4 linked regions of the Homo sapiens genome follow. The protein of the gene in region 4 interacts with the protein of the main gene of each other region in a pairwise test. Each region holds a gene or a part of one and is shown on either strand. Other genes may lie near its edges.

Region 1 (6,940 bases), on a different chromosome or scaffold from region 4:
AAGGAAAAGGATTGAATGTGACATAAGAAGTTAACATTTTTTGTATTTCTTGCCCCAAAATAGTGCTTATCATTTTTTAAAAATTGCTATATGGTTACCCATAATAATCTTACTTTCTATATCTAACTAGTTTAAATGGTACATATTACAGAGGATGGACAGTGTGGTTAAAAGCCGAAAGAGAGACTATCGTGGCTAACTTGTACCTTTAGCGGCTTGACGGCACAGACAAGATCAATCTTTCCATTGCCAACACTATTTTCAATAATTCTAAAACAGTTGATATCAACTGTGACTATCTTTATGAAAATGCTTTTCCCCACAAATACGAACACATGATTCTAAGAACTACACTTGATGCTACAAGGAAGCCAGAACTCTGTACCTAGAGAGGAGGAGATAAATTTGTAATCGGTATTATAAGTTGGAAAAAGAAAAGAAATGTAACTTGGGAATGTGTAAGAGCTGATGTCTTTATATCTAGTCCACAGCCAAGGGCACAAGTTCCTTTATTTTGAGTGTGCCAGACCACCTGCAGTAACTCCTCATAACATCTTAAACTAAATCTTCTCTTTAAGGTCTAGGGCCTTCTCCAACTCACTTCCTGAAAAGCAGTATGCTCAGGTAACAACTCCAACAGCACCGACTCACAAGGGGTCCTAGACACTGATTTAATGTTGGCCTCAAAAAGAAAACTTCTGGAAGCTTTTGGGGCTAGGTGAGGTACTTGAGGGTATAATTCTCTGGCCAGCCCTTTAAAAGTTCTGAGAAAACTTCACAATAAAAGCATCTAAATGCCAGGCCTATCAGCAAAGAAGGTTAGTGCTACTTTCATTGTCAGGAAAAAAAAAAAATAAGAAAGAAAGAAAAAAAAAAGATAAGCAGATGGGGCAATTGAAAGGTTACATCTTTCTTTTGGAGGTGGTTTGCTTTTTAAAGGTTAACTTGAATGCTTGACTTTAAAAAATCAAAATCATCAGCTGCAAACGCTTAAAGCAGTTGGGGGTAGCTTTTGAAGAAGAAAACAAAGGATCTGAAATGTTTGAAATTACTTAGCCCCCATATAAATGGTGCTTGTATATTTATATGCTTGCTCTACAAATGCACACACACACATACCACAACTCATTTCTCTTCATTTCTCAAATATGATTGCTTGTACTCAGGCATTTTCTGTTGACACAACATAACTTTTTAATAACTTGTTAGCTGTTCTAATCATTTGATAGTATTCAGAATACAATGCAATTGCAAAATGAACCAGGACAGCATTCTACCTAAGTCAGAATCTAAAGCTACACACAGGAAACAGCTATTTGCAGCATCTTCAGCTCCTGCTAAAGAGAGTCTAACAATATATTTTGCTGTTCACATTTATGTATTTCAAAACCTAATAGCCCATGAAAAAAAGTATGAAGAATACATCTCAAGAAGCAGATATTAAAGGTACCAGCAAAATAATAGACTACATTTAACTTCGAAGGATTATTTTAGGCCACCTACATCATTAATGACTTTTTCTTTGTGATAGGTGTTGGAAAAGAGAATGCACAGGAGGGTTGGCTTAAATGTTGGCTTTTATTACGTTTACTTGCTGTGAGTAAGATTATTCACAAATGCAAACACACTACTCTTCAAATGTTTTCTTAAAAATTATTTGGCCTTCACAGTCTAAACAGATATTTGAAATATGGAGTCATTTTGAAGTAAACATTTACCCCTAAAATTTATCTTTAAAATATCCTACTTAAATCATATGTCATAGTGTGATATTTAATTGTTACACTGTGGTATTAAAGCAAAAGGGGCATCAGGTACACAACAAAAATTAGACAGTTATAATTCCCAATTTGAGGTAAACTACATCTAGGAATAGGAATGTTCGAAGAAAAGATGAACTCATCATTTACTATCTTCTTAAATGCACCAGCAAAATTACAAAAGTACCACTATTATCATGTTTATCATTATCACACTCATATCAGGTTATCAGACAAGCTGATCTCAATGAAAGTGGGAAGGATTATTAATTGTGGTGTTATCTTTTCTAGAGAGAAGAGATGTCTTTATTCCTCTTTCTATTTTTAACTAATGTCTGGACCTAATGTCTGGAGTCACTTCAAATGCAAATCTGTTAATCAGTTTCAAACTTCCAAACCAATTGGGGCTAGCTTTTGCTTCGCAAATTTTTGGAGCTAGCAGCAATTCCTGCTTAGGTATTCAACTTCCATAAATCTCACTAAACCTTGCAAGGTGGCGCTCTTTTCATGAAAAAAGCCAATATTATTGTTATAATCAGAATAACATTTTTTAAAAAGTTAAACACCACCCTCCCCAGTGTTTGATGTGGTACAGTAAGTGCAGCAAAGTCCTTCCTCAGCAAATAAGACTTTGTTGAAACAGTGACAAATATAAATAGCAAGAGATGAAAAGACAAGTCAACAAAGGATTCTTAAAGAAATTGAACATTTTTATCTTGTAATTGGCCAATGGTATAAACTGAAAAATTAATTTCACTTTAAAATAGATGTATCTTAAGGGGTTGTTATACTTTGTGGGGTTTTTCCTCTTGTTTTCTTTCTCAGAGTCAAATATGGCCTGTGGCTTCCTGAACACATAGAGTGCATTAAAGAATCAGGTCCATGGCCACCCTTGCCCAGTGAGGTCAGTTTCTGCCACCTGCTCTGCACCTCCACACACTAGCAACTACAGCCAAGGGCCTGATTTGTGATCTCCGGCTACGTTGTCTGCCTAATGGGGCGATCATGCAAGCTACAACCAGAGACAAAGAAGCCTGCGTTCCTACCAGCGCAGCTAACTTCATGGAAGCAGCATAGCTTGCAAATCTATCAAACTAAACTGCAAGAAAGACAATCTGATTTAGAGAAAAGGCATTCTGCTACAGTCATTAAGCACAAGTAATTTAGATTTTTTATATTGTCTCCTCATTTACAAATTTACTGTATCAATGCCAACCAATGGAACGAATTTCTTAAGTAAATGAGAAATAAATAAAAGAGATAGAAAGATAATCAAATTACTTAAAATAATCCTCTTCCCTAGATGTATTTTTGAGAGAACTAATAACAGTGGCAAAATCATAGGAATAATAACATATCATAGGAAGTAATTAATTTAAATTAGCATCATGTTTGAAGAATATAAGTGAAACGCTTTATGGACATTTACTTTTGTACAAAGAAGGAAGGCCTGGAAAAGCATGCATCGACATCCTGAAAATTAGTTATGGTCATAAATGGTTTAATTGAAGACAGCAATTTAAAATATGATATTGTAAATCTGCAACTCAGTTTCAGCCCGGGGAATTTAATCTAGGGGGCAGCGGAACCCTCGGCTGCAAGTTCATTTGCAATGTTGCAGAGCGAGCCCCTGAGCTTCTGACAATTCGTCTACATTAATATTGATGTCGCCTGTGCAATCTATTCCTGTTATTTTTATGGTTGTTATTCTACATCTGCAAAGGTCATTTAAATTATACTGCGGCCGAAAATTTGTTTCATAAATTTTGATATAAATACTAATTACACTCTCTCGGAGAGCCAGCAGGGTAGCATTCATTTATCACGTTTATACGACCTGCAGTGACAGAAAGGGAAGGCAAGGGAGACTGGAGAGCTTTTCTGGAGACCCTTTAAGACTGGCAGAAGAGGCAGCAGGTTGCTGGTGGGTGAAGAAGAAATTCCTACCACAATCACGGAGATTTAAGAATCTTTAATAAGGTACGAAAGGTTACCAAACAGTTCTGGAAACTAAAGTGTACATACGAGTTCTTCTAGCCATAAATATTGAAGAGCTGTAACATGGATAAACCGGCCCTTTACATGCGGATAAATATGGAAACTAGGAATTATATACATTATGTGGTTGTATCTTTTGCCAAAAGTAACGGACAGTTATAGTTTATATCTTTTTTAATATCACTTTACATAAACAAATGGAACAGTTTGACACGCAGATCCAGGCTCGTACTATACGAATTCTTGACAGGACATGAAACAACATTTTACTGCACTAAAGTACTTAGACTTTGGGACGAAATGTTTGCACTTTATACAAAAAAAGCACATTAATACCAATAATATTGGGTTAGGTCGACGTGGAGACTGTAATCGTACAAAGTAATTCACATTTTGGTACACATTTACTAGAACATTCTTGCCATTCAGTACAAACAGTTGGCTTTCGGCCGCCCACCCCTCCCCCTCCCCCTCCCCCCGCCCATCCGGTCCCTCCCCCCTCCCCCAATGCAAAGACCACAACGCCACAATCCCACCCACCCGCTCCAACCGAGATATAACTATTTACAGAATTCAACAGTACAGTTTTAAGCTAATAATTCTGTATTTACAAGAAAACAAAGAAAAAAAGAAGCCGAAGCCCCAGAGAGCCCGTACCAATTCGACAAGAAACTGGCCCTCGGGGTTGGCGGCATTTGGTCAGGTGGCCTCCTCCCCCTCGACCCCCTACCGCACCTTGGGTACCAAGCCTTTGCCAAAAAAAGAAAAATAATGAAAGCGAAAGGAAATTTTTAAAAGGTTGATGCTTCCTCTCTTACTCGTCCTGGGTCTATTGGCAGATTTTTTAAAAAAGGATTGCGGGGTCTGTGTGGGGGTTGTTTTGATTCGCAGGGTTCTTTCAGTAATGTTGTGTATACGTGTGTGATCAGTCTCTTAAATAGGGTTTTGTTCGATGTTTTGTTTCTGATTTTAAACGTACCATTCGTTAAAATTGGAAGAGAGCGCACTGTGGCCGGCTGTGTGGTGGACTGCGGAGGAGGAGGGCGATAAGGAGCTTGTGGTCGGGTTGTCTGTGGAGGGAGACACGATGGTGGGAGGCGTGGAGGATTCGTAGCCAGAGCTGGCGGCCGGCGAAGGCTGCGAGCCCTGCGAGGAGGATTCGTGGACCTGCAGGAATAAAGTCGCGTTTTTACGGACATAAAGAGCCAGTGCGGCGGCCGACTAGAGAGGCGAAGGCCGCGAGTGCCCTTCCTCCTGGACCCCTTGGAGCCCCCTGAACACAGGTGAGGCCCGATCAGCGGGACTTTGGGCTTGGTTTCTCTGCACAGGCCTGCAGAAACCGTGCTCCTGGGAAAGTCAGGGTCCCCAAGACTCACAAAAGAAAAATAGGTCTGGGAAGAGGGAGACTGGATATGAGGCCAGAGACTGCACTTTCTTTCCCTGAACTTTGCTTGTCCATGTTTAGGTGAGCCAGAGCTCAGGCCTGGGCGCAGGAGTCCAATTCTTGCGTCTCACTGGCAGCTGCAAGGGCAGCAGTTTCCGCAGCGTCAACCCCCTGCAAAAGCCCTAGCTCTGGGCCAAATTCAGTGGCGGCCTTTGCTCATACTCGCCTCTTTTAACTTTTATTATTAAACCAAAAATTTAAAACGGCCTTGGACACTCCCATCCCCTTTTCCAGGTCCCGCCCTACCTTCTCTGCCCAGTTCCACTGAGTGGAACCTTTGCCTTCCCGCTTCCTCTGGCTCCCGCCACCGCCTGTCTGCCACTCGCCGCCCGACCCCAAGCCGAGAGCCAAGAGAGCTCCTGCCTCAAAGGGGGCGACGAGAGTGCGGCGATTACCTTCATGTGTTTGCGCAGCGAACTGGGATGCGTGTAGGACTTGTCGCACATCTTGCAAAGATAGGGCTTGTCGCTCGTGTGCACGTGCATGTGCTTCTTGCGGTCGCTGCTGTTAGCGAAGCGCCGGTCACAGCCCTCAAACTCGCACTTGAAGGGCTTCTCCCCTGGTGCCAAAGTAGAATGAGAGGGGTCTAATTAGAAAAAAATACCGCGGCCGTTTTTCAAAAACTAAACAAATAGAAAAAAAATAAAACAAAAAGCCAGCAGCCCAGGATTAGCACTTTGCAAGCTTAAAAACCCGGAACGTCAATAAATTCTTACATCTGCAGTGGAATTATAAATATCTTAACTCTATTGTAATCCCTAATACAATTGGATCTACATTTTATTTTTATGTTTAAAAAAATTAATAGTAGGAGGAGTCGGTTTTTAGCATCAGATCTGGAAACTCGTATTACCCAGAGCTACACACGATTTCGGATTGCTTCCACCTGGCTCCTGGTTTCTAGTTTTCACGTTTGCGGCTTATTCTCCTGCCCTATTGCTTTTCTCTCCTCCCCCTGCCCCCTCCCCGACGCTCCGCATCCCCTGGTCGCCTCCTCCAACCCACCCCACTCCCTACATACACTCACATTTTATAGCGTAATCTGGGCCGGAGAGAACTCAACGCCGCAAATTCTTCCCTGACTCGGGCGTTAAACCCGAAGTCTCAAGCATGGTTCTCAGATCTCACCCGGGAAAATCAGAATAGGAAAGGAGACCCAGTTCCCGGCCTCTTGGGGGCAGGGGGCCCAGAATGTTTTGTCTGATGCCAGGCTACAACCCTGAGCTCGTGGGAACTTTTTTTTTTTTTAACTGTTCCGGACCTGTGTCTTGATTATTTTTAAAGGCCAAAGAGGGGAATCTGGTGTTTTGAAAACACCCTCATGGAGTCTAATAGACAACAAGTTCTTCCTTGCCTTCCTCGGACTTTCTCCACCCCTCAAACCCACTCTTAAAACCAGTCACTACTAAAACTGAACTCTTCAAATATGCATAAAGCTCCAAAAGCCTCCTCAATCCCAAATTATTTCCTTTCCCCACTCTGTCTCAATTCTTTCTGTCTCTGTTTTGTTTCTTTCTACGCCCTTAACCCGGCCTCCTCAATTTCCTCAGCTCTTTCCTTTGGCAAAGTCCTCAGTGAAGTGCACGGAGAGAGATGTTGGCAGCAAGCAAGGGTTTAGATTTGTCTGCAGCCTGAGCAGCTGGCGCCTCCGCGGCTGCCGGGAGCCAGCCACTTTCTCCGGCTTCGAAAGCACCAAGGTCTCCGCCAAACCAGGTTTGGCTTCCTGTTCTCCGACCTT
Region 2 (9,536 bases), on a different chromosome or scaffold from region 4:
GACCTTGAACCAGCACGTGGAGCAGCTGCGCGGCGCCTTCGACCAGACAGTGTCCCTGGCCGTGGGCTTCATTCTGGGCAGCGCGGCCGCCGAGCGAGGGGTCCTCAGGGACCCGTGCCAGTGAGTCCCGGCTGCGGCCAGTCTCCCCTCTCCAGGCCGAGGCCCCTCCGCCCTGACCCCTCCTGCTGCCTTCCCACCCCCGTTCTTGGGTATGTTCAATAAAAGGATTGTTTTCCTAGAGTCCGGGCTGTGTAGGAGTGCGGGTCTGGAGACGGGGAGGGAGTGGCGCCCTGCAGTGCTGGGGCTGCAAAGGTCAGGGCAGGGTTGCGACGCTCTCATCACAGAGAGGGGCTCCCACTCGCTCCTAAGGTGTAGACAGAGCTCCGTGGGGCGCACCCAAATGTAGGCCGAGGAGGCCAGGCTCGAGGGTGGTGGGCGTGGTGCCTGCTGCCGGGTCCTGGTCACACACTCGGTTCTCAAGGCCACACCAGACTCTCCCTGCCCCTCCCGGGGAGCCCCACTGAGTAAAACGAAGTGAACGGGTGGGCTCCGCTGGGGGTCCGGAGAGAACCTGAGGCTGACCCCACCTCTTCACTCAATGCAGGGGTAGGGGTTAGAGTGGTCGCCTCCACACTGCCCAGCAGAGAACCCCCTTTGACCCAGGAGTAGCATGGGGGGTTCCGAAGGTCCTCCCATGGCCTCGGGCAGCCTTGGACCACCCGGCTGAACTCTCCCAGGTCCTGGGAAACAAAAGGGGAAGAGAAGCCACAGAGCTCCAGGGAGGATGCTGGTTTTGTCTCCAGGGAGGTGGCTCTGGTCTGGGTGGGCCTAGGGAGGCGCTGAGCGTCTGGGGTGTGATCCTTGGGCAGAGGCTGAGGGCAGGGTCCTTGCAATTTTGAGAAAACCGAAGCAAACCTGCCCAGGAAGCATTTTCCAAGTAGCAATAGAGGGCCCCACCCTGGACCCCTGAGTCAGAAGAGGGATTGGCTGGAGCCGGAGATACAAATGTAGCCTGGAGGAGTTCCGCTAGCATAACAATGCCTGCAAATTAGTGGGCCCATCCAGAAAGACAAGTGGTTTGCCCAGGGCCATGCAGCTAAATGGGGCTGGGGGGGTCCCCGCTGGCCCAGCACCCAGCAGTCCTGAGGGGTTCCCTGTGGGTGGTATGGTTGCAGCCCCTCCTGCACATGCTTTTCTGGGTATCCAGAAGAATAGTTCCCGCTAGTGCTAAAGGCTGCTCCTGGGGAAATGAACGGCTTGCCCAGGTCTGAGGGGGAGGCCTGTGAGACCACGCCTGCAAGAACTGACTCCAAGCCTCACCTCATTTAAGAAACTGAGGCGCCGGACGCTGTGGCTCACGCCTGTAATCCTAACACTTTGGGAGGCTGAGGTGGGTGGATTGCCTGAGCTCGCTCAGGAGTTCGAGACCAGCCTGGGCAACATGGTGAAACCCCATCTCTACTAAAAATACAAAAATTAGCCGGGTGTGGTGGCGGGTGCCTGTAGTCCCAGTTACTCGGGAGGCTGAGGCAGGAGAAGTGCTGAACCCAGGAGGCGGAGGTTGCAGTGAGCCAAGATTGCGCCACTGCACACCAGCCTGGGCAACAGAGACTCTGTCTCAAAAAACAAAAAAACACTCTGAAGGCAGACGCGGTGGCTCACGCCTGTAATCCCAGGTCTTTGGGAGGCCAGAGGCGGGCAGATCACAAACGAGGTCAGGAGTTTGAGACCAGCCTAACCAACATGGTAAAACCCCATCTCTACTAAAAATGCAAAAATTAGGCATGGTGGCGTGAGCCTGTAATCCCAGCTACTCGGGAGGCTGAGGCAGGAGGAGGCAGGAGAATCGCTTGAACCTGGGAAGTGGAGGTTGTGCACTGCACTCCAGCCTGGGTGACAGAGCGAGACTCCGTCTCAAAAAAAAAAAAAAAAAATAGACACCCTAGGCCAGGCTAGGTGGCTCACGCCTATAATATCAACACTTTGGGAGGCCTGGGCGGAAAGATCACTTTGAGCTCAGGCATTCCAAACCAGCATGGGCAACATGGTGAGACCCCGTCTCACATCAGCTCCACCCTGCTGTGTTTCCTGAGAATCTTCAAGCTGCTAAAAGCCTGTTGGATGAGCCAAGCTTGCAAACATTCCCCCTCACATACACAGCCCCCAAAGGTCAGAGTCACAGGCTGAGGCCACAGTGGGGTCTGAAACAGAGCTTAGGTGCACCCTACATGACCCTGTCGCTCCAGAAGGTTACTGCTGACAGCAAGCCCAGGTCCAGACAGCCACATCCCAGCAAACACACCAGCACCCTAAGGGTGGGGGCTGTGCCGCTCTATCACTCGGGTTACTGGACACTCGGCCCTGGAGGAAGGACCCATCTCTGGGCTGGAGCAATTTAGGGGCACCAAGCAGAATTAATCTGCCTTCCTACTCAGGTAGTGGGGCAGGGGCCACGTGCTATGATCCTCCTGAGCCCGGTATCAGAATAATGAATCTGAATACATGGGCCCCGGACCTCTAATGCTTTCTAATCTGGTGCAGAGAGTGTATTTTGGCTGTTTAAATCAATCTAGGGGCCAGATGCGGTGGCTCATGCCTGTAATACCAGCACTTTGGGAGGCTGAGGCAGGAGAATTACTTGAGCTCAGGAGTTTGAGACCAGCCTGGCCAACATGATAAAATCCCATCTCTACAAAATACACAAAAATTAACTGGACATGGTGGCACGCACCTGCAGTCCCAGCTTCACTGGAGGCTCAGGCAGGAGGATCACTTGGGCCCTGGAGATCGAGGCTGCAGTGAGCTGTGATCACATGAGGCGCTCCGGCCTGGGCAACAGTGAAAGCCTGTCTCCAAAATAAGTAAGGCGCTCTGTAGGCATGGCAGGATTAGCCTCCTGTGTGCTGTTTAATGGGGCCAGTGTCTGAGCACAGTTGGTTTAGCGTTACCTTTTTTTTTTTAGATGGAGTCTGGCTCTTGTTGCCCAGGCTGGAGTGCAATGGTGCGATCTTGGCTCACCACAACCTCCGCCTCCTGGATTCAAGCGATTCTCCTGTCTCAGCCTCCCGAATAGCTGGGATTACAGGCATGTATCACCACGCCTGGCTAATTTTGTATTTTAGTAGAGACAGGGTTTCACCATGCTGGTCAGGCTGGTCTCGAACTCCCAATCTCAGGTGACCCGACCACCTTGGCCTCCCGAAGTGCTGGGATTACAGGCGTGAGCTACCGCACCTGGCCGGCTTAGCGTTTCTTTATCGGCCATGCACCAGACCAGCCCCACTTCCTAGTGGACGTGTCGGGGAGCGGGGAACATGGGGGAGTCGGGGAGCGGGGAGTGTGGGGGAGTCGGGGAGGGGAGCGTGGGGGTGTCAGGGAAGGGGGCGTGGGGTGTCGGTGAGGGGGGCATGGAGGTGTCGGGGAGGGGGGCGTGGAGGTGTTGGGGAGCGGGGATCGTGGGGCGTCGGGGAAGGGGGCACGTGGGATGTCAGGGAGGCCGAGGCCACAGGGGTGGGTGTTGGGGAGGGGTTGGGGAATCTCTACAAACTTTTTTTAAAGTCTGGTTAATTGACGTGTAATTCACATACAGTAAAACTCACCATTTGTAGTGTACGGTTCTACGAATTTGTAAAAATACATATAGTTGTGCAACCAAAACCACAATTGAGTTACGGAACATTTCCATAACAACAAGAAACTTTTTTTGTGTCCCTTTATAGTCACCTGCTCCCTGACTCCCAGCCCTGGCAACCATTGATCTATTTTCTGTTCCTATAGTTTCGCTTTTTCTAGAGGGCCATATGAATGGAATCATACAATGTGCAGCCTTTTCAGCCGAGTCTCACTCTGTCGCCCAGGCTGGAGTGCAGGGGCACGATCTCGGCTCACTGCAACCTCCATCTCCCAGGTTCAAGAGATTCTCCTGCCTCAGCCTCCTGAGTAGCTGGCCTCCCCCTCAGGTGGTCCCAGAGTGCTCGGAGGAGGCTCGGGCGAGTCGCGACGGGGCCGGCAGCACGCGCTGGGCCCGGTGTCTGTCCTCAGGCCCTGGACTCGGGGGGAGCGCGTTTCGGGGACTAGCTGGACTCCGGGCTGTGCGTGGGGGCGGTGCTGTCGGCCTGGGAGTGACGCGGGACTTCCTGCCCAGCGCAACCCGGCCTGGCCCCCGAGGGTGGGGGACAGGGCGACGCCCGCGGGGACCACGCTCTGGGGCGTGCGGGGCGCAATTCACGGGGCTGGGCTGCCCCAGGGGCTGGGAGGAAGGAGGCAGGGGGGCGCCCAAGTCTCCTACCCATGGCAGCGCATCAGGGCGCGTCCCAGAGCCGGGGGTGGACGGAGGCTTGGAGGCGGAGGCTTTGGGGACCCCCAAGCCTGGGCTAGAGCAGCCTCGGCGGGCTCTAGAGGGAGGGTGGAGGGAGGGGCCCGGGCTGCAGGAGGCGGGGAGGCCTGAGCCACGGTGGTGGGGCCGCTGGGCAGGAGAGAGGGGCTGCCTGACCCTGCCGTGTGAAGGTGAGGTTGTCTTCGGGCTTGGGGGGATCGGAGGGGGCGGTTCAGGTGGAGGTGGTGGCGGGGGGCTGGGAAACCGGCAGGAGGGGCTCTATGTAGAGCTGGGGGTGGGGGTGCTGAACCACGTACAGAAGGGGGCTGAGACACCGGGGCCCTGGGCCCCGGAAATTAGAAATGGAGAAATGGAAGGCTGGGTGCTGGCGTTTCGGAAATGCATGCTCGTGGTGTTCCTCTTTATGTAAGGGAAGCTTCTGGGCCTTTTCCCTGCCTGTCGAACGTTCTGTATGTTTTTGCGGGATGTGTGAGGTGTGCTGTCTTGCTCCACTTTGAGGCACCGCCCCCACTGCGGGAGTGCTGGGGACCTGCCCCATGGGGCATCCTCGGGGCCAGCCCTGTGGCCACAGGCATCTGGGCCCTCGCTGCCCCTGGCCGGGACACACTGCCGGTCCTGTGCAGTGGCTCAAAGCCCCTCTACCGGGGGTGACCCGGTCTCTCCGGAGATGAAGTGCAGCGGGGGTCTAGGCCGGCTTCCTGGCCCCCCACCCCTCCTGGCTTTACCCCCGAGGCCACGTCCAAAGCCCCCAGCGCCCCACCCCCGCCAGCCTCCCCCTTGAGGGCCCAGTGACCTAACTGGGCCGGCAGGGTCCGAGGAAGACCAGGGTCAGCGGCGGCACGGTCCGTTCCGCGACCCCTCTCCTGTGACCCCAGGTAGGCCGCCGATCGGTTCCCGGCTGAGGTCCCGCCCCAGCGCCCGCCTCCCGGGCTCCAACCTCTTTGCTCAGCCCGGGAGGCTCGGCTGGCTGGGGCGGGCGTAACCGTGGGGCGAGGCCCGCCGGTCTTTCTGATTTCCGCGGGCGGCGTGGGCGCTGAGGCAGCCGCGGTCAGGACCTGGCCGGGAGTCGGGGCTGCTCCGTGGACCCCGCGTCTGCGCCGAAACCCCGCATGGCTTCGGGGGCCGGACCTGCGCCTCCGCCTAACTCCGGCCGCCGGAGACGCCGTGCGGACCCCAAGCCAGTGCGCGGAAGACACCGTCCTACCCTCGGCATGGCTGCCTCCCACCCGGTCACGTCGGTCCCCGCGCCCCACGCCGACGCGCAGGCGACCCGGGGACGCGGAGACGCAGACAGCTCGGGACTCAGGTTCGTGGGAGCAGCGGCCGCGCGTGGCTATGACCGTCCCGGGGGCCCGTGCTCAGGGCGTCCCCGTGAGGTTTGGGCGCCACAGTCACCGGCGGCTCTGCCCGCGCCCTGGCCACAGTGGGGACAGCCTGGCTTGGCGGGGACGCACCAGTCCCGCCGCCGACGCGGAGTTCCTACCCCGCCGTGCGAGGCAGTGGCTCCGGCCCTTCCAGCTCGGGATGGAGTCAGGGAGCCGCCCGCGCCCGAATGCAGAGGCTCCTGCGATGGCCCCGGAGTGAGTCCCCCAGAGGAGCCGGATTAGGGCTGGAGGCGGCCGAGTCCCCCGAGAGGCCCCTCCCGACATTCCCGCCCCCGCGCGCCGCTCCCCGGGTCCTCCGCGTCTCTTTCCCGGGAAAGCCTCCCTCGGTTCCTGCGCGGCCGCACAGCCTGGACGCAGCGCACGCGGGCACCGGCCTGACTCTCCCACCCCGAAGCCTGCTCCCAACCTAAGTCCGCCCTGACTCTCCCAGCCTGAAGCCTGCTCGCCCTCGGGTGTCCGGGCTGGGCACAGGCGCCAGCGTCCCCCTGGAGAGGAGAGGTCGCCCGGCACCTCCCAGGACAGGCCCAAGTGGGAGTGGGACCCTCCTACCTTCCTGCAGCCTCGGCCCGCGGGGTGGGGGGTTGGGAGAGATGAAAGGAGGTGACCGATCCCGAACCATCGCCTCTCCATTAACCAGGGCCCGCAGCCCCGCCCCTCCCCCAGACATCGAGGAGCCGGGGAGGTGTGAACGGCCTCCTTTGTGCCTCTGAATCGAAGGCAATTAGGCGCTGCTTATCTGGGCATTAGCCGTGTATGCAAACCGGGCTCCCGCCCCCTCCTCCTGGGCTTATAAACGCCGCCGCCTGGCGAGGCCCGAGGTGGATCCTGCGCCTGGCCAGCCCCGCCTGGCCTTCCCTCCGGCCCACCTGGCCGCCATGCGCCTCTCCTCCTCCCCACCTCGTGGCCCGCAGCAGCTCTCCAGCTTTGGCTCCGTGGACTGGCTCTCCCAGAGCAGCTGCTCAGGGCCGACCCACACCCCCAGGCCTGCCGACTTCTCCCTGGGGAGCCTCCCTGGCCCAGGCCAGACATCCGGCGCCCGGGAGCCCCCTCAGGCCGTCAGCATCAAGGAGGCCGCCGGGTCCTCAAATCTGCCTGCGCCGGAGAGGACCATGGCCGGTAGGTCCGGGTGGGGGGGGTCCCTTCCTTCCCAGGTGGAGATGGGAGTGGGGGAGAGGCCAGGAGCCCGGCGGCTGCACTCCCCGCGGTGCCCTGCCCACTAGGTCAGGGCCGGGGGCGTTTCCATGAGGGCCGGCGGAGGCCTTGCCGGCGCCCTCACTGGAGCGCAGCTTCCCTCGGAACCAAAGCCTTGACGGGGATTTCCTCTCCTTGAGCCCCCGGTGGGCTCCTCTGCCTCCTTTTGTCACCCCGTTCCTCAGCTGTGTCTTCGTCCCCCACCCCGGCCTGGTGCCGAGGGACCGTCCAAGGGGTCCCCGTCCGCACCTCCCTGCCCTGATTCCGGGCGCTCACTGAAAGTCTCGATGATTTGCCAAGCCCCCCGCCCCCGCCCCCCAGCACAGCCGGTGCCTGCTCAGCGTCTAGGCTCAAGCCCATTCCGGGTCACCTGGAGCACAGCTGTCTTTAAAGAGCCTGCAGGTTCGCTGCAGGGGTGGCGGTGACCCCGATGCCTGCAGAAACTCTGAAGTTCCCTCTGTGGCCGCCCAGATGCTCTGTTGTCTGCTGAGAACAAAGGTTCTCTGCGTTTGTGTTTTAGTCTTTGTGACATCATCACCACTTTTAGGTTTAAGGTAGTACTTGGTCAAAAGTGGGGTTGACATCATCTACAAGTTTTCATTTTTAAAAATTTGACTGATCCTTATGGAGTGACTTTGTACTTAAGGGAAATGAAAATTTAAATGTATTCTCCCCAGCTAGCTATCCTGCCCCACCCCAAAAAAGCCAGCCATCCCTGTCCCGCAACCCCCTTTCTGATGCCAGTCCTACAGCCCTCCCTGCCAGAAGGCATTTGCTTTTTGGGTCTACCATGTGCTTTCAGGCTAACGTTAAGACAGATTTTGTAAAATACGCTTCCTTCCGCAGAAACTCCAGCGAGCATTTTGGTCAGACTTGCATTTAATGTCGAGCTCGATTGGCCACGTTGGCCTTTCCTGGGACCCAGACCCAGCTCCACAGACCACCTCGTGGGGCCGTTTGGTGCCAGCCCCCATTCCTTAACTTAGAAATTAGGAAACAGACTTGACCACAGTGGGCCTGGGGATTAACTGAGTTGGCCTCCGCTGGCTGAGGAGACGGAGCCCGGGACAGGGATGGGTGCCCCTGGGTGGGTCGCCAGGCCTTTGCATATAATGGATTCTTACCTTACCGGCCTGGAAGGCTGTGGGAAGGGCATCCTGGGAACCGGCTTCTGGAAGGGAAGTGTGGGATGGGGCGGAACTGAGTGGACTGAGCGGAGGGCAGGCCCAAGCTGCTGTTAACATTCCCTCCCCTCTTGAGCCCCCTCTCTGAGCCCCCTTTCCGCATGTGACCTGGGAGGCGGCGGGGGTGCTGCTGGTCACTGTCAGGTGAGAAGATCTGCCCTGCCCAGCCCCCAGCATGGCTGTCTTCACCTGTTACCCGTGGGCACGAGCTTGCCCCATGGGGTGGCATGTTGAGCCAAATGCCCTTACCCTCTATGTCAGGGTTGAGTAAGGAGCCAAATACCTTGCGGGCCCCCCGTGTCCGCACAGCCTTCACCATGGAGCAGGTCCGCACCTTGGAGGGCGTCTTCCAGCACCACCAGTACCTGAGCCCTCTGGAGCGGAAGAGGCTGGCCAGGGAGATGCAGCTCTCAGAGGTCCAGGTGAGGTGGGCCGGGCAGGCTGGGGTGGGCAGGGGTGGGCAAGGGTGGGCTGGTGGCCTAGTCTCACCCCTGTTCTGATCTTGCTTTTCCTACAGATAAAAACCTGGTTTCAGAATCGCCGCATGAAACACAAACGGCAAATGCAGGACCCCCAGCTGCACAGCCCCTTCTCGGGGTCTCTCCATGCGCCCCCAGCTTTCTACTCAACGTCTTCTGGCCTTGCCAATGGCCTGCAGCTGCTGTGCCCTTGGGCACCCCTGTCCGGGCCCCAGGCTCTGATGCTGCCCCCTGGCTCCTTCTGGGGTCTCTGCCAAGTGGCACAAGAGGCCCTGGCATCTGCGGGAGCTTCCTGCTGCGGGCAGCCTCTGGCGTCCCACCCCCCTACCCCAGGCCGGCCTTCGCTGGGACCAGCCCTGTCCACGGGGCCCCGGGGCCTGTGTGCTATGCCACAGACGGGGGATGCATTTTGAGGAGGCACCTCTGACTCCCACACTCGCGGTCTTGCTGATCGCACCTGGCTCCTACCTGGAGGACTCAGTTGTTCTGTTTACATCCTGGTGGCACCTCTCACCCTGACCCACACAAAGGTTCTGGAGATTACTGGAGAATATATATAAATATATATATGTACGTATATATGTAAATACACATATACGTATATATAAATATATATATACATATGTGTGTGTATATATATATATATTTTTTTTTTTTTTTTTTTTTTTGAGACGGAGTGTTGCTCTGTCACCCAGGCTGGAGTGCAATGACGCAATCTCGGCTCACTGCAACCTCCGCCTCCTGGGTTCAAGCGATTCTCCAGCCTCAGCCTCCCGAGTAGCTGGGATTACAGACACCCGCCACCACGCCCGGCTAATTTTTTCTATTTTTAGTAGAAATGGGGTTTCACCATGTTAGCCAGGCTGGTCTCAAACTCCTGACCCTGTGATCCGCCCGCCTCGGCCTCCCAAAGTGCTGGGATTACAGGCATGAGCCACTGCACCCGGCCCTGAGAATATAT
Region 3 (9,374 bases), on a different chromosome or scaffold from region 4:
TTTTTTTTTGAGAGGAAGTTTTGCTCGTGTTGCCTAGGCTGGAATGCAATGGCATGATCTCGACTCACTGCAACCTCCACCTCCTGGGTTCAAGAGATTCTCCTGCCTCAGCCTCCCAAGTAGTTGGGATTACAGGCGTTTGCCACCATGCCTGGCTAATTTTTGTATTTTTAGCAGAGACAGGGTTTCACCATGTTGGCAGGCTGGTCTCGAACTCCTGGCCTCAGGTGATCTGCCCGCCTCAGCCTCCCAGAGTGCTGGGATTACATGCGTGAGCCACCACACCTGGTCTCTCTTCTCTTTAGAATGGCTTCCTAACAGATGACATTTTATTTATTTCTCTTGTCTGCTTGTCTACTCTCCCCACTAGAAATCAGCTGCATGAGGGCCGGGGCTTTGGTTTGCTTTGTTTGTTTTATCTCCAGTGCCTGGAACTGTCCCTGGCACATAGCAGGTACTATATAAGTATTTGCTGAGTCAGTGAATGAATGTTTTCACTTACCACTGCATTTCTGATGTCCAGCACGGTGCCTGGCACACAGTGAGTGATTAATAAACATTTGTTGAATGCATGAACAAATGAATGAACAACTCCCACCTCTTACAGTTTCTGCCGTTCTCCCGGAAGCCTTTGGCAAAGGGATTGGCTGCAATCTTCAGTTGTGTGATCTGGGGACACACATGCAGGGTCAAAGCAACTGCGGTCTGGGCAGGGGGCCACCACCCCCTCAAGCAGGGTCACTCACCTGTGGGTTCTGGTAGGCTGTCACGGAGATGAATGTGGTCTCGGGGAAGCGGAAGGAGGCCATGCCCCCCCAGTGCTGGCTGCAGAGCTGGGCTGCCCGAACTAGGTGTATGCGGGGTTGGTACTTGTGCATGGAGTGCAGGATCAGCTGGGAGGGAGGAAATGGGAGTGATTCCCTGCCCTGCGCCTCACCCTTGGCCTCCCTTCCAGCACCCCCCAACCCTATCCTGGAGTCCCAGCCTGGGCCTCACGTGGCCGTGGGGGTCCAGCGTGCTGTTGGTGAGCTTGACACGATGGAAAGACACAGGCTGCCGCATCCAATGTGCACCAGTGGCAGGAGAGTCGGGGTGAATGTAGACACGGTCAGGCAGGCGGGGCTCTGCCTTGCCGCTGGGCTCCCAGCGCCGGCCCTGCCAGCGGTAGCGAGCCCCATCCACCGGAATCACATCCAGAAGAAACAAGTAGCGGGCCTCGGGGTCCAGGCCAGTGACTGACACTCGGCAGGCAGGGAACATGCGCCTGTGCAAGGGAGGGGACAGGAGAGGCCTGGAGCTACCCACTGGCCAGGGGTGGGCCCAGCACCAGTAACGGGACATAACAACGGGCTCCCCAGAGCTGTCAGAGAAACATCAAAGGAGGTGGAATTAGAACCCAGAGGGCAGGCTGGAGGCTGTGGCTCACACCTCTAATCCCTATACTTTGGGAGGCCAAGGTGGGAGGATCTCTTGAGTCAGGAATTCAAGACCAGCCTGGGCAACATAGAAAGACCCCATCTCTACAAAAAAATTAAAAAATTAGCCAGGCATGGTGGTGCACACTGATAGTCCCAGTTACTACAGAGGCTGAGGCGGGAGGGTCACTTGAGCCTGGGAAGTCAAGACTACAGTGAGCCACAATTGCACCACTGCACTCCAGCCTGGGCAACAGGGCAAGACACTGTCTCTGAAAAATGAAAAAGGGCCAGGCGCAGTGGCTCATGCCTGTAATCTCAGCACTTTAGGAAGCCGAGGTGGAAGGATCATGAGGTCAGAAGTTTGAGACCAGCCTGGCCAATATGGTGAAACACCGTCTCTACTAAAACTACAAAAATTAGCCGGGTGTGGTGGTGTGTGCCTATAGTCCCAGCTACTCGGGAGGCTGAGGCAGGAGAATCGCTTGAATCCAGGAAGCAGAGGTTGCGGTGAGCTGACGAGATCGTGCCACTACACTCTAGCCTGGGCAACAGAGCGAGACTCCATCTCAAAAAAAAAAAAAAAAAAAAAAAGAAGCCAGAGGGCGGAATCTTAGAGCTGGAAGGTTTTCTTGTCTCATTTTACATTTGGGGAAACAGGACAGACGGGTTAAGTGATCTGTCACACAGCAGGTTAGGAACAGAGCCATGACTCCTACCCCTCAAAGCCTATTTGCAGAAGCAGGGGTGACTAACTTTCTTGCTAGGAGCTTCCTGTCCCCACCCTCCTCTCCTCCCCTGATCTCCAGCACCAGAATCTGCAGCTCTTAGATGAATTTGCTTTAGAAAAAATATACCCTGCCTGCAGTAGGGCCGAGGACTTTCCATGCTAGGGCTTGAGTTCCTGCCCCAGCTAAAGACCTCATCTAAGGTCAAACACTGACCGTGTCCCTGCCTCTAGGGTGACCCTGGACCTAGTCATATACTGACTCCTATTCGAGTTGCATACTGATCCCGAATCCTGGCCAGATTTCCCTGATGCTGGTCAATGGGCTGGCCCTTGACCCCCTGTCCTTGTCTGGATGCTGGTCTAAGCCACACACTAACCTATAACCCAGAGGGACTTCCTGACCCTGCCCCAGACTGACCCATGACCCTTGCCATAGATTGGTCCCTAAACTCAGCCACAGACTCCACAGACTGGCCCTTAACCCTTGTCACAGAGTGACTCCTGATTCCTGCCACAGAGTAACCCTTGCCCCAGGCCATAGTCAGATTCTAGGCCTAGGCAGAGCTCTAGCCCCTCGGGAACCACCCAGTCCTAGCCCCCTCCCCAGGGACTCTGCCTTTCCCAAGAGACCCCCACCAGAAACACGGACCCTGGCCAGCCCCTCACCTCCCAGCTTTGGTGATGATCATTTCTGTTCCCACAGAGCTGAACTCCTTCCATAGCTCCCGGTTCTCCAGGCTCAGGCTGACCCCCGGGAGGGAATGGAGGGCCTCTGGAGCTGATGGGGCCGGCTCAGTGCCCATGGCAGGGGGCAGAAGGGGCAGAGGTGGGTGCGCGGCCAGGGTGCGGGGAGCAGCCTCCATCCCGGAGAGGAAGCAATCCAGTTTAGGGGTGTCCAGTTCTGGAAGCCGGGGAAGAATGAGGAGCCAGCCGAGGGCCACAGCCCCCCTATTCTCCTACCCAGGAGCTGGTCCCAACGCTCACCGGGGTAGCGGTAGCCCTCCGCTAGGGCGGGTGGGAAGCTGGAGTCGGCCCCAGGTTGGGCGGGCCCCAGGCGGTAGCCGGCCCCCAGGGACGGGTACAATTCTCGTGGATGGTACATGTTGTAGTTCCGTCTGGCCTCAGGTCTCGCTGCTTAGGGCCCCCGGTGCTGCGAGATGCCCCCTTTATAGCTCACAGCTCAGCCCCTTCCAGATCCAGGATCACAGCCCCTCCCCTCTTTGGGGCCCTGGAGTTGGGCTGGGGTGGAGACCCCTGGGGCCTCGAAGGGGTCCGAGAGGGGGTCGGATACCTGGGTACGGTCCCCTCCTCCCCTCCCTCCCCACCCCGGGAGGCTTCATTAGCCTCGACCCCCTGCCCCCTCATTACATAATTAACTCCTCGGCTTGATTGATCCCCAGGGCTCGGACAGGGACGCAGTTTGGCGCTTCCGGCCAGCTGGTCCCCGTTCCCACGGTGGGGAGCCCCGGCTAGGGATAAGCTGGGGGGCGGGGCCTGGAACCTGGACGGAGCCAAGAGTCCCGGGACACACCTTGGCGCCCCAGACCTTCTGGCAGGTGACCGCCCTCCGCCCCCCTTCACTTGGAGGCCGGGCCCTGGAGGGAAGCAGCGTGAACAGAGGGAAAGTGCAGGCTAGAGGGACGCGGCCTGAGCTGATTTCACAGGGCACTCGGGGCCGCGAGGAGGCCGCAGCCCAGTCCCGAGCACCGTAGTCCTCCCTGGTCCCCATGCTAAAAAAACCTCCATCCCGAGCCAAGCCTCCAAAGTTCGAAGGCGCTCACAGTCCGACAGCTTCTGACGCCTCGCGCCAGGGTTTCCCGAAGGTCCCGCGCTGGGGAACCCTCGGAACTACACTTCCCGGCAGGCTCAGCGCTGAGGCGCGCCCGAAGGAGCCGGACGGACCACGCGGGGGCCGCTGGGAGTTGCAGTCCGACCGCGAGGGGGCTGCGAGGCCGGCGGCGCGGTTGCCTCCCTGGGACGCTGCCCCTAGGCGGCGGCCAAACGCTGCAGATGAGCAGACGCAGATCAGCCGAGGTCACGGCGTAGGCAGCCAGAGTGGGCTCAGGACCTCCGCCAGCAGTGAAACCGTCCCGGTTCCCGGAGACCCAGCTTGGACGGCTGTGCCTACCCCATGCCCCGCCGGGGCTCAGAACCGCACAGGTCTATAGGGGCGGAAATCTCCGCTTGAGCTCCCCCTTCCCGGATTACACGCGAGCCTGAGCTGTCTCCACTCCATTGTTTTATTATGTACAAACGCTACAGAACGAGGGGGACAGACACGCGTGGGGTAAGAAGGGCCTGGTGGGAGGAGTTCACAGAGCAGACGGTGCACTGGGACCAGGAGAGCAGAACACAGGCCATAACTATAGGGCAGGTGGGGCAGGAACGGGTTAAAAACGAGATCCAAGCCAGCCAGATCGCAGGAGGTGCGGGGGCGTCGTCCCCCTTCTGTTCTCCCCCCAAGGTCACAGTGCATGCAATAAAATATATATACAGGAGCTAGATCCGTCCTCTGCAGGGGCTCTGAGGGTCCAGAGCTCCCTTCGGGTGGCGGGAAGCCAGTGGCGCTCCCTGGCGGCCAGGCCGGGCTGGAGCCACATGCGTCGGGGGAGCGGGGGTCAGTCCCAGCCGTTGTCTTTGATCATGTGGTTGAGTTCAATGATGTACTTCCCCTCTTTGTACTTCTGGCTGCTCTCAAAGGCCTGTTCCTGAAAGGAGGGGCGGGACCGTCATCCCCGGAGCAACAGTCTCACCACAAGGCACTGGGGTTGGGAAGTGGACATGAGTGGCCCCATTTTACATATGAGGAAACTGTGGCCCAGAGGGGCAGGGCCGTATTTCTCACAAACACAGAGTAGAATAGAACTCCCTGACTCAAAGGTACTTTTTTAAGTACTAATGATGGCTCCAACAGAGAAGATAGGGAAGTGGCTAAAAGATTTCACAGTTCAGGGTTTGCAAACTGGTAGCTTCATGGCCATTTTGGCCTACAACATGTATTATGTTTGGACAGCAGACAGTTTAATAAAAATAACTTTAAAGTATTAAAATATAAGTAGGCCTTGCTCACTCCAGTTTGCCCAGCCTGCCCCCAACTCCCAACCCTGCCAATCTATGCTACCCTTTACACATCTACAGTATCTGCTTGGCCTTGCAGGCACTTGAGGTTTTTTTGTTTGTTTGGTTTTGAGAGGGAGTCTTGCTCTGTCGCCCAGGCTGGAAGTGCAACGGCGCGATATCGGCTCACTGCAACCTCCGCTTCCCGGGTTCAAGTGATTCTGCTGCCTTGGCCCCGAGTAGCTGGGATTACAGGCGCCCACCACCACGCCGAGCTAATTTTTGTATTTTTAGTAGAGATGGGGTTTCACCATGTTAGTCAGGCTGTTCTCGAACTCCTGACCTCAGGTGATCCACCTGCCTCAGACTCCCAAAAGTGCTGGGATTACAGGCGTGAGCCACCACACCCAGCCTGGCACTTGAGTTTTTGACCTCTTGTTTAGGCCAGCTCTTTATTAATTATTATTATTTTTGAAACGGAGTCTCGCTCTGTCTCCGCTCACTGCAAGGCTCTGCCTCCTGGGTTCACGCAATTCTCCTGCCTCAACCTCATGAGTAGCTGGGACTAGAGGCGCCCGCCACCACACCCAGCTGATTTTTTTTTTTTTTTTTTGTATTTTTGGTAGAGATGGGGTTTCACCGTGTTAGCCAGGATGGTCTCAATCTCCTGACCTTGTGATCCACCCGCCTCGGCCTCCCAAAGTGCTGGGATTACAGGTGTGAGCCACTGTGCCTGGCCGGCCAGCTCTTTATTTGGTAGAGGTCCAGAGTGGCCAAGCCACCTGTCCAGAGACACACAGCCAATCTGTGGCAGGGTCAGCAGCGAGCTCAGGTCAGGGCTGGCTGGCTGGCTCTGCCTGGGACATCCACCTCACAGAGGCACCACAGTTCCAAGCGACGCCTGAAGAATCCTGTCCCTTGCAGTGTCCCAAGAGCATCTTCCTGAGCATCTAATCTGATCCCTGTAACAATCCTGGGTGCTAGGCAGTGGCTTTATCTTCCACTGAGAGATAAGGAAATGAGACTCAGGGTAGTGAAATCAGACCCTGGACAGCAGCAGTGGCAATGAGGACTATGGAAAGGGAGGCTGGTGAACCCAAGCTCCATGTTGTTGCAGAGTCTGGGGCAATTTTTCTGATACTCTAAATGACAATATAAGCTGGTGACCAAGGGTTTGGAGTGAAAAAAAAAAACCAACCAACCAACTCAGATTCTGGTCCCTATTCTGTTACTTACCAGTTGGGTGATCTTGGGCAAGTTACCTAACATCTCTGGGCCTCCCTGTCTTCTTCTGTAGAGATAATAATAGCTTCTACCTAGAGGATCACTGCAATGATTGAATGAGATAATAGACGCCAGGCACACAACAGTGCAAGGCACATAAACATTCCATAAATGGTGACTCTGATTATATCCTAACTCTCTAATGGGGATCCAAGTGCCTGGGAGAGAAGGGATGGGTTAAGAGAAAAGTTCTACACCCCTTGCAAGGTGCAAGATAAAGAGAATGTGGTCAGGGATGCTGACTTGTGTGAGCTCGGCCTATGCAATCTGAAAGGCTATAGGGTGACAGCTTGTCAGGAGGAGGTGTTGGAAGGTCAGGTCAAAGGCTAGCCTGGGGTCAGAGGTGGGTGACTCACATATTTCCAGCCCAAAGTGGTCTTGCAGTTCTCGCAGTGGATGTCGGCGACAGCATGGAGGCCGGTCAGCAGCACCCGCTCCTCGGCTGGCCCGCAGCCCACGTTCACCCTGTGGGGACATGGGGTAGTCCCAGGGAGGGTCCTGCCATCACAGGGCCCACCCCCTCAAGCACTGTGTCTGTCCTCAGCATCCAAGAAATGATGCTCACAATTTCCTGCCTGCACCGGGGAACTCTGGGAGTCTCAGCAGGATGCCAGGGGTCACAGGTCACAACAGAGGTCAGGGAAAGCAAGAAGGGAGGCCAGATACTCACACTGAGTTGAAGAGGTAGGCACGCCCCTGACTGCCCTGGAAGGACTAAAGGGTGAGAGGGTGGGAAGAGAGGAGGGGGTCAGGGCTGCCGGTGGGGAGCTGCCAGGCAGCCCCTATAGGTTCCAGCCCCACTGTGGCCTGGTTGGTTACCTTGGAGATGAGGTCGTCGTGGTTGGCCAGGTGAGCGCGGCAGTGGGCACAGCTATACCTCCGGTGACAATCATCCAAGTAGGCCTGAAACGTCTTGGGCTTTGAAATCCGCACCATGGCGGGGGCCGGGGGCAGTGGCCCCACGCGGGGAGCGGCCCACGGGGAGCAGAGGGAGCCCAGTGCCTGCCGGGGAGGGAGTAGGTGGGCTGTCAGGACCTGGGCCACACACATGCGAGGCACTCCCAGAGCCGTGGGGACTCGCTCTGTCACACTGGGCTGCTCTCTCCTTTCCCCAGAGCCAGCAGCCTCTCCGGGGACCAGAGGCGTCTCGGTTTTGACTCAGTGAGGAGGCCTCAGGTTGCATCCATGGGGAAACTGAGGCTCGGAGGTGCCCAGGGTGAGTCACCCGCCTGCTTCCGGCCTCACCCTTGCTGACCTGGCAGCTGAAGCTGGAGGAAGGGGCTTTGGAGGGGCTGGGCTGTCAGTTCCCAGTTTCGGGGGAGCATGGGCGGGTAGGCACTGGTTGGTCCTTGCGACCTCATCTGGAGAGCAGTGGGGTTCACTGGTGGTTTAGGGGGTTCATCGGGGAGAGGGTCCCCCACCTGGAGGAGGTAGGAGGCCTCGCCGTGAAGGTTGAGGGTCACCTAGGAGGGGAGGGGCTCTCACCTGCGGGCGCCAAGGCCTCCTCTACGCTCAGGGGCTCTTACCTGCAACGCGGAGCCTTACCTGGACTCCGGGGCTCACCTGGGGCGCGGGGGTGGGGGCGGGCGCCGGGGGAGGGGGCAGTCCTCGCGGGCTGGGCAGGGGCGCGGGGCGACACGCAGCCCTGACGGCGCGGGCCTCACCTCGCCTGGGCGCGCGGGGCCCGGTCCGCCGGGGTGGGCTGGCCTGGGAGTGGGGGGCGCTCCTGGCGGGCGCCGTCCCCCCCGGGCCCGGGTTCGCAGGCGCCTGGACTTGTTTACACCGAGCCCAGCTGCTGCCGCCGCTGCGGCGGGAGGGGGAGGGGACCCGCCTCCTGTCCCGGCGGCCGCCGTGGCCAATGGGCGCTCCGCATGCAAATGAGGGGGCGCGTCACACGGCGGCCGGCGCAGGCCCCGACCGCCCCTCCCCCGCCGCCCGCTCCCGCCGGCCCGGAAATGCGGCTGCGGCCCGCGCGCCCCAGGCCTGCTCGCATTCCTGCTTGTGGCCCGCGCAGGGGCGGGGTCGGAAGGTCTAGGCCGGGCGCGGAGCGAGGAAGCGGGTGGCGCTGGGACGCATGCTCTGGGGGAGATGAGTATAATGACCCGCGTTTGTCCGCCGCCCGTGCCCCGCTCAATCCCCGCATCAATCCCGTGAGGCCGTTTCTCCCGTTGGCTCCACTGTACCGGGGGCTGAGGCCCAGGGAGGTCTCGCGGCTCCCTAGGTTATCCAGCTAGTAAGAGGCGAAGCTGGAATTCTCACTGTGGGCCCATTCCATGGCTTTTGCCAGAGCGCCAGGGACACACTCAGTTCACCTTCTAGCAGGGAAGACCCAAAGATGCGCGCCCCTGGCAGCCAGGGCGTCGGACCAGGCAATTCCTACTGTCCAGCATCACCTCCTCCAGGCCTCTCGGATGCCTCTGTTGGGACAGCTAAGTTCCTCTTCAAAGACTCAATTTCCTGGTCATAAGCTGTAAACAGATTCTACTCCCGCTTTTTCTTCTTTGTCGCACGTCTACCCTATTTGGGAAAGTTTAAACCTTAGCCAATCGGGATCAGCTCAGATTGTGCGGTCCAACCCCCCAGCCAATGGGGAAAGGACACAGAAACAGGAACTGCGTTAGGGTTAAAAACCACTTCCCTCCTTTGTTGGCGGGTGCTCTTGGGATTGCAACCAGCGCAAGCAGCACCCTTCTGCAGAAGTAAAGATGCCTTGCTGGGAAGTCTTCTGTCTCAGTGCTGGTTTTTCTTGACTACACTGAGCACTTGTTTTCAACAAATTTGAGGGTCTTCTGGGATCCCATTCTCCTTTGGGAGGGGTAGCGATTACTTTTCCTCGTGAGACACGTCCCACTGCCTTGTTGCAGTGGCCCAAGGAGCGGAGGATCGGG
Region 4 (4,501 bases):
CCCACCAGGTGGCAGCTTCTGACCAGAACCTCCCCTATTGGGGTGAGCCCTGAAGGGGGGAAGAACTTCTGCCAGCCCCAGACTTCTGTGGCAGAGCAGCAGGTACAGGACTGGGGGTCTCTGGCACCCGCACCAGCCACGTTCCCAGACCCTGCACCAGGACCCTAGGTGAGGGCCCAGGGCAAGCCCCTCTGGGATGGCCAGGCTACCTGCCCAGCCTCCAGGGTCCTGCTGCCTCCTTGCCCAAGCATTGTTTCTCTGGTTTTAAGCCCCTCCAATGGGCCTCACTGGGGGCAGGAGATCAGCCAGGGCCCCTGGTGGCCAAGCTAGTGGGAACCAGGCTCGTCTTTAGGCCCACCCTGTCACTCTCCCGTCCAAGGCCACATAGTAGGCTGAGGATGGCAAACACTGCCCCACAGACACCTACAGGTACGTATTTTTCCAGGAAGCTGCGGTTCTGGAACCTGGAGTTTGAGAGCCAGTCTTTCCTGTATAGACAGGTAGGCTCTGTTCTGGGGCCGTCCCCAGGGGGTGGGGCTGAGGGTGGGCAGGCCCCTGTGCAGTCTTGGCTCTGGGTCGTGGGCGGCTCTGGGTCACAGGTACGGAGGATGACGGCTGTGCTGGTGGGTCACGGGCGGCTCTGGGTCACAGGTACGGAGGATGACGGCTGTGCTGGTGGGTCACGGGCGGCTCTGGGTCACAGGTGGCTCTGGGTCACAGGTACGGAGGATGACGGCTGTGCTGGTGGCCGTGGGGCTGGGGGCTTTGGCACCTGCCCAGGTGAAGACGATTCTGGAGAGCCAAGATCCCCTGGGCAAGCACCAGACACGTGTAGCCCCAGCCCACGGCTTATTCCTCAAGTCAGTGCTGTACGGGAACCTCGGTAAGAAAAACAGGCACGAGAAGCTCCTGTCATGTGCCCAGTGACTACTGTGGCCGAGGCATGGGGTGGGGGGCCAGGGGCCACTGACGGCAGCAACTGGGGGTGAAGCAGCCCCCCGCCCAGGGCTGCAGTCCCTCAGGCCAGCCCGTAGCCCGTCCTGGGCTGGCCCACTCCCTGGTCATGGGAGTGGTCTCAGCGGTGGGGAGGGTGCTGGGCCGGTCTTGCCCCAGGCTGACGCAGGGTCTGGTCCGTCCACAGGTGCTGCCTCCTGCACCCTGCAGGGGCCACAGTTCGGGAGCCACGGATGACCCTGGACACTCAAGCCAAAGTTAGGCCACACCAGGCCCAACCCTGTGCTGGTCAAGCCAGGGCAGTCACAGCTGCTTGGGGCCCACAGCACTGCTGCCTGGTCTCCACAGTAGCCTCCCTGCCCGGGTCCCAGCACCCTGGATGCCCGTCTCTGTCCCAGGCGGGATGGGGCACAGTGCAGGACACAGCCATGTACACCAAGAAGAGAGTACCAAGTAGTCTTTTGTTCAGCTTTTACTGGAAACTGCTGTCTAGGACCACCTGCCCTAACCAGGAATAAAGGCAAGACAGCCTGGAGACCAGTTTGTTTCTTCAGCTGCAAACAGCTGCCTGGGCAGGCAGGTGACACAAGGCCTCTGTCCCCAGGGATGGGACCTGCAGGGTCTGTTCACCCAGGGCACCCACAGTCCTGAAGTGCAGGCCCAGGGTCTGTCCAGCTGGGAGAGGGCAGAGGTGGCGGCTGGGTGAGTTGCCGGCCTCAGCTGGGGGCCTGGGGGAGGCCCTTCTTCAGCAGAGATGTGAGGAAGCTCCCCAGCTCCTCGTCCTAGGGCAGAGGCAAAAGCATTGTGGGTGGTGCAGGACAGGGAGGAATGTTGATACCTGTGTTGACCGCGGTGGGGTGGGGGTCACCCCTTACCTGGTAGGTCCAGGAGACCAGCAGCACCTTGGTGCCTGGGTCCTCAGAAGGGGCGGCGGCCTGGAGGAGGACGGACTCCACAGTCACAGAGCCGTCTGGGAGGTGCTGCACACAGTGGTCCTTCAGGACGCTGTGGGGAGGCTCGGTGAGACCCTGCCTGGCCTCCAGGGCCCAAGGGAGTGGGGGGGGGGCGGGGCCGGGCGCCCACCTCTTGAGGTGGCTGTAGACGCGCAATGCCGTCTCCTGCTCCTTGCGTGTGTCATGCAGGTGCACGCGGCAGGTGAAGCGCAGCTGGTGCTCAGCCAGACCCAGCTCTTTGAGGGCTTGCTCTGAGGACACCAGCCGGAAGTTCTGTGGGGCAGGGACAGGTCAGTGAGCGCAGCAGCGGCCCTCCCCCCTCCAGAGACCGTCCTGGCACTCACGCTGTCCTTCATGATCAGGGTGCCGTGCAGGAGCCGAGGCTTCTTGGCCTCAGGGAGCAGCCCTGCGGAGGAGGTGGCAGGAGCCATCAATGTGAGGGCCGCTCCCAGCCGCCTGCCCCGAGCACCCTGCCCTGCCCTGCCCAGCCCGCATACCCTGCGCCATCTCCCGCTTCAGCAGCCCCAGCGAGATGCCTACGGGGATGCTGGGGCTTGTGGGCAGCGTCACCGTCTCGCCATTGGCCGGCATGTAGCAGTTGACCCCTGGACCCCGGGGGAAGAGAGAGCCTCAGCCCAGGCTGCCCGTGCTGACCCGAGGTGGGCCCCACGCCGCCCGCCCGGCTGCCTACGGAGCTCCTGCTCGATCTTCTGCTTCAGGAACTCCATCTTCTTGGCCTCGCCATGCACCAGCAGCACGCTCTCCGGCTCTGCCTGGCCCACCAGCTGCATGATGCCCTTGGCGTCCGCGTGTGCGCTGAATGACATGTACTCCACCTGCATCTTGACCTCCAGCTACAGAGGCCACGGGGCGTGGACAGTGGTTACCACCAGGAGGTGCCCCTCGGCCCTGCCAGCCCAGTGCGGGGTCGAGACTCACCACCTGCCGCCCCTCCATCTCGAGCTTCCGCTGCCCGCTGAGGATCTTGTGGCCGACGGTGCCCTGCACGCAGTAGCCGGGCATGATGACCTGGGGGCAGGCACAGAGCTCACAGCCAGGGAACTCCAGCCTTGGCACCTCAAGGCCTTGCCCGGGATGCCCCCGCCTGAACCCCTGGAAGCTGTTTCCACCTGCCAGCGGCGCCCGACCAAGCCTAGCTGCAGACTCCAAAGGGCTCAGGTTTTGGCACAAGACTGTCCAGGGCTGGGCTGGGGCTGTTCTGCCCGAGGTGGACAAGCTGTGTCACAGAGACTGAGCAGCTCCAGGCGGACATCGCCCCCGTTCCCCAGCAGCAGCAGCCACGTCCCTTGGCCAGCACGAGGCCAAGCCAGTGAGAGCTCAGAGACAGCATGGGTGGAAGGACAACCCGTCGGCCTCCAGCTTCCAGATTCCCACACCTCACCATGCCCTCACCATGTTCTTTTCGTTTCCGGCCCATTTCCGGAAGATCTGCAGGGACTGCCCAGCGTGCAGCATTCCTGGCGTGGCAAACACAACCTACAGGACACACAGGGCCAGGTGGGGGGTCAGGGCAGCAGATGCCCCCACCCCCACTGCAGGCCCAAGCCCAGACACCTGCGGAAGACAGGAGACCGACGGGTGTGGATGTGCTGGCCGGCCCTGCCGCGGGCCTCACCATCGGTCCTGGGTTGTCAGCAAAAGCCCGGTCGAAGGCCTTGATGTGCTTGAACTCAAACATGTTCCTCTGCACGAAAGTCTTGCGGATCTTCTGGTTGGTCCAGGGGATGAACAGCTTGTAGTAGTGGTTGGCCTTCTCGGTCAGCCCCGTGGAGAAGTAGATGGGCACCTTCAGGTTCATGCGCTCCCTGGGGACCACCGGCCCAGTCAGCACAGTGGCCACAGGGGAGAATGCTGCAGGGCAGGACTCGGCCGGGTCACCCCCAACACCCGTGTCTGCACAGCCCACGCACGGGCCAGGTTGAGTCCAGTCGCGACCACTTGTCCCATTAAGCCCTGCAGCAGCCGGGCTCAGCGGAGAACCAGGAACCCCTACAAGAGCCGCACACGGTGGCGCTGACGGGATGTCACAGGCTTCCTGGGGTCACACAGCACACGAGCGGCCCCCCAGGACAGCAGCAAGCAGGGCCAAGATGCCACCGCTACGCTGGACAGGGCTGCCCACCAACTGGACTGTGTTCAGGCCGGGCCAGGGGCTCCTTAAAGAGCCGTCCTGGCGGCACCTACCAGAAGGTCTCCAGGAGGATGCAGAGCTCCTGGGCGCGGCCCAGCGCGAACACAGGTATCAGCACCTGAGGGGGACACAAGGCAGGAGCCCTGGGCACATGGCCCCTCGACACAGCAGGCAGCGTCCAGTGAGGGCACGGCCAGGTGCCCAAGAGCTGCGGCCTCATAGGGACCTTAGCCTCTCATCTGCTCCCAGTCCCGTCCCAGCCGCTCTCCAGAGACAGAAGGGAGCCGTATGAGAGACAGGAGGGAGCCGCATGAGAGACAGAAGGGAGCTGCATGAGAGACAGAAGGAGCCTGGCCAGGGCTTCGTCCGCACCTGAGGTAGGAGGGAAAAGGGGCTCCCTAGGAAAGGGTCTCTGAGTTTTCCTCCTCAATGTTGAGCAAAT

What was found.
Region 1: the proteins of INTS11 (region 4) and ZIC1 interact in binary tests that used the Homo sapiens proteins (3 or more experiments, as listed by UniProt).
Region 2: the proteins of INTS11 (region 4) and VENTX interact in binary tests that used the Homo sapiens proteins (3 or more experiments, as listed by UniProt).
Region 3: the proteins of INTS11 (region 4) and TBX6 interact in binary tests that used the Homo sapiens proteins (3 or more experiments, as listed by UniProt).

What each region holds. Positions count from the first base shown.
Region 1 is NC_000003.12:147,411,339-147,418,278, reverse strand, and holds the end of ZIC1 (zinc finger protein ZIC 1), read right to left. Parts: intron 5,762-6,940; coding exon 5,598-5,761; intron 4,926-5,597; coding exon 4,728-4,925; 3' UTR 1,560-4,727; downstream 1-1,559. UniProt on the Homo sapiens protein: Acts as a transcriptional activator. Involved in neurogenesis. Plays important roles in the early stage of organogenesis of the CNS, as well as during dorsal spinal cord development and maturation of the cerebellum.
Region 2 is NC_000010.11:133,231,319-133,240,854, forward strand, and holds the start of VENTX (homeobox protein VENTX), read left to right. Parts: upstream 1-6,536; 5' UTR 6,537-6,596; coding exon 6,597-6,837; intron 6,838-8,357; coding exon 8,358-8,518; intron 8,519-8,613; coding exon 8,614-8,988; 3' UTR 8,989-9,536. Other genes in the region: UTF1 (undifferentiated embryonic cell transcription factor 1), read left to right, coding at 1-124. UniProt on the Homo sapiens protein: May be involved in ventralization.
Region 3 is NC_000016.10:30,087,947-30,097,320, forward strand, and holds the start of TBX6 (T-box transcription factor TBX6), read right to left. Parts: upstream 3,979-9,374; 5' UTR 3,927-3,978; intron 3,589-3,926; exon of another isoform or gene 3,296-3,588; 5' UTR 3,248-3,295; coding exon 3,130-3,247; intron 3,047-3,129; coding exon 2,812-3,046; intron 1,265-2,811; coding exon 997-1,264; intron 894-996; coding exon 747-893; intron 670-746; coding exon 599-669; intron 1-598. Other genes in the region: YPEL3 (protein yippee-like 3), read right to left, coding at 4,764-4,853, 6,843-6,951, 7,157-7,200, 7,306-7,536. UniProt on the Homo sapiens protein: T-box transcription factor that plays an essential role in the determination of the fate of axial stem cells: neural vs mesodermal. Acts in part by down-regulating, a specific enhancer (N1) of SOX2, to inhibit neural development.
Region 4 is NC_000001.11:1,310,189-1,314,689, forward strand, and holds the end of INTS11 (integrator complex subunit 11), read right to left. Parts: intron 4,178-4,501; coding exon 4,113-4,177; intron 3,734-4,112; coding exon 3,544-3,733; intron 3,405-3,543; coding exon 3,321-3,404; intron 2,937-3,320; coding exon 2,847-2,936; intron 2,762-2,846; coding exon 2,599-2,761; intron 2,513-2,598; coding exon 2,405-2,512; intron 2,379-2,404; exon of another isoform or gene 2,314-2,378; coding exon 2,252-2,313; intron 2,181-2,251; coding exon 2,038-2,180; intron 1,960-2,037; coding exon 1,830-1,959; intron 1,737-1,829; coding exon 1,671-1,736; 3' UTR 1,473-1,670; downstream 1-1,472. Other genes in the region: PUSL1 (tRNA pseudouridine synthase-like 1), read left to right, coding at 446-500, 704-883, 1,142-1,472.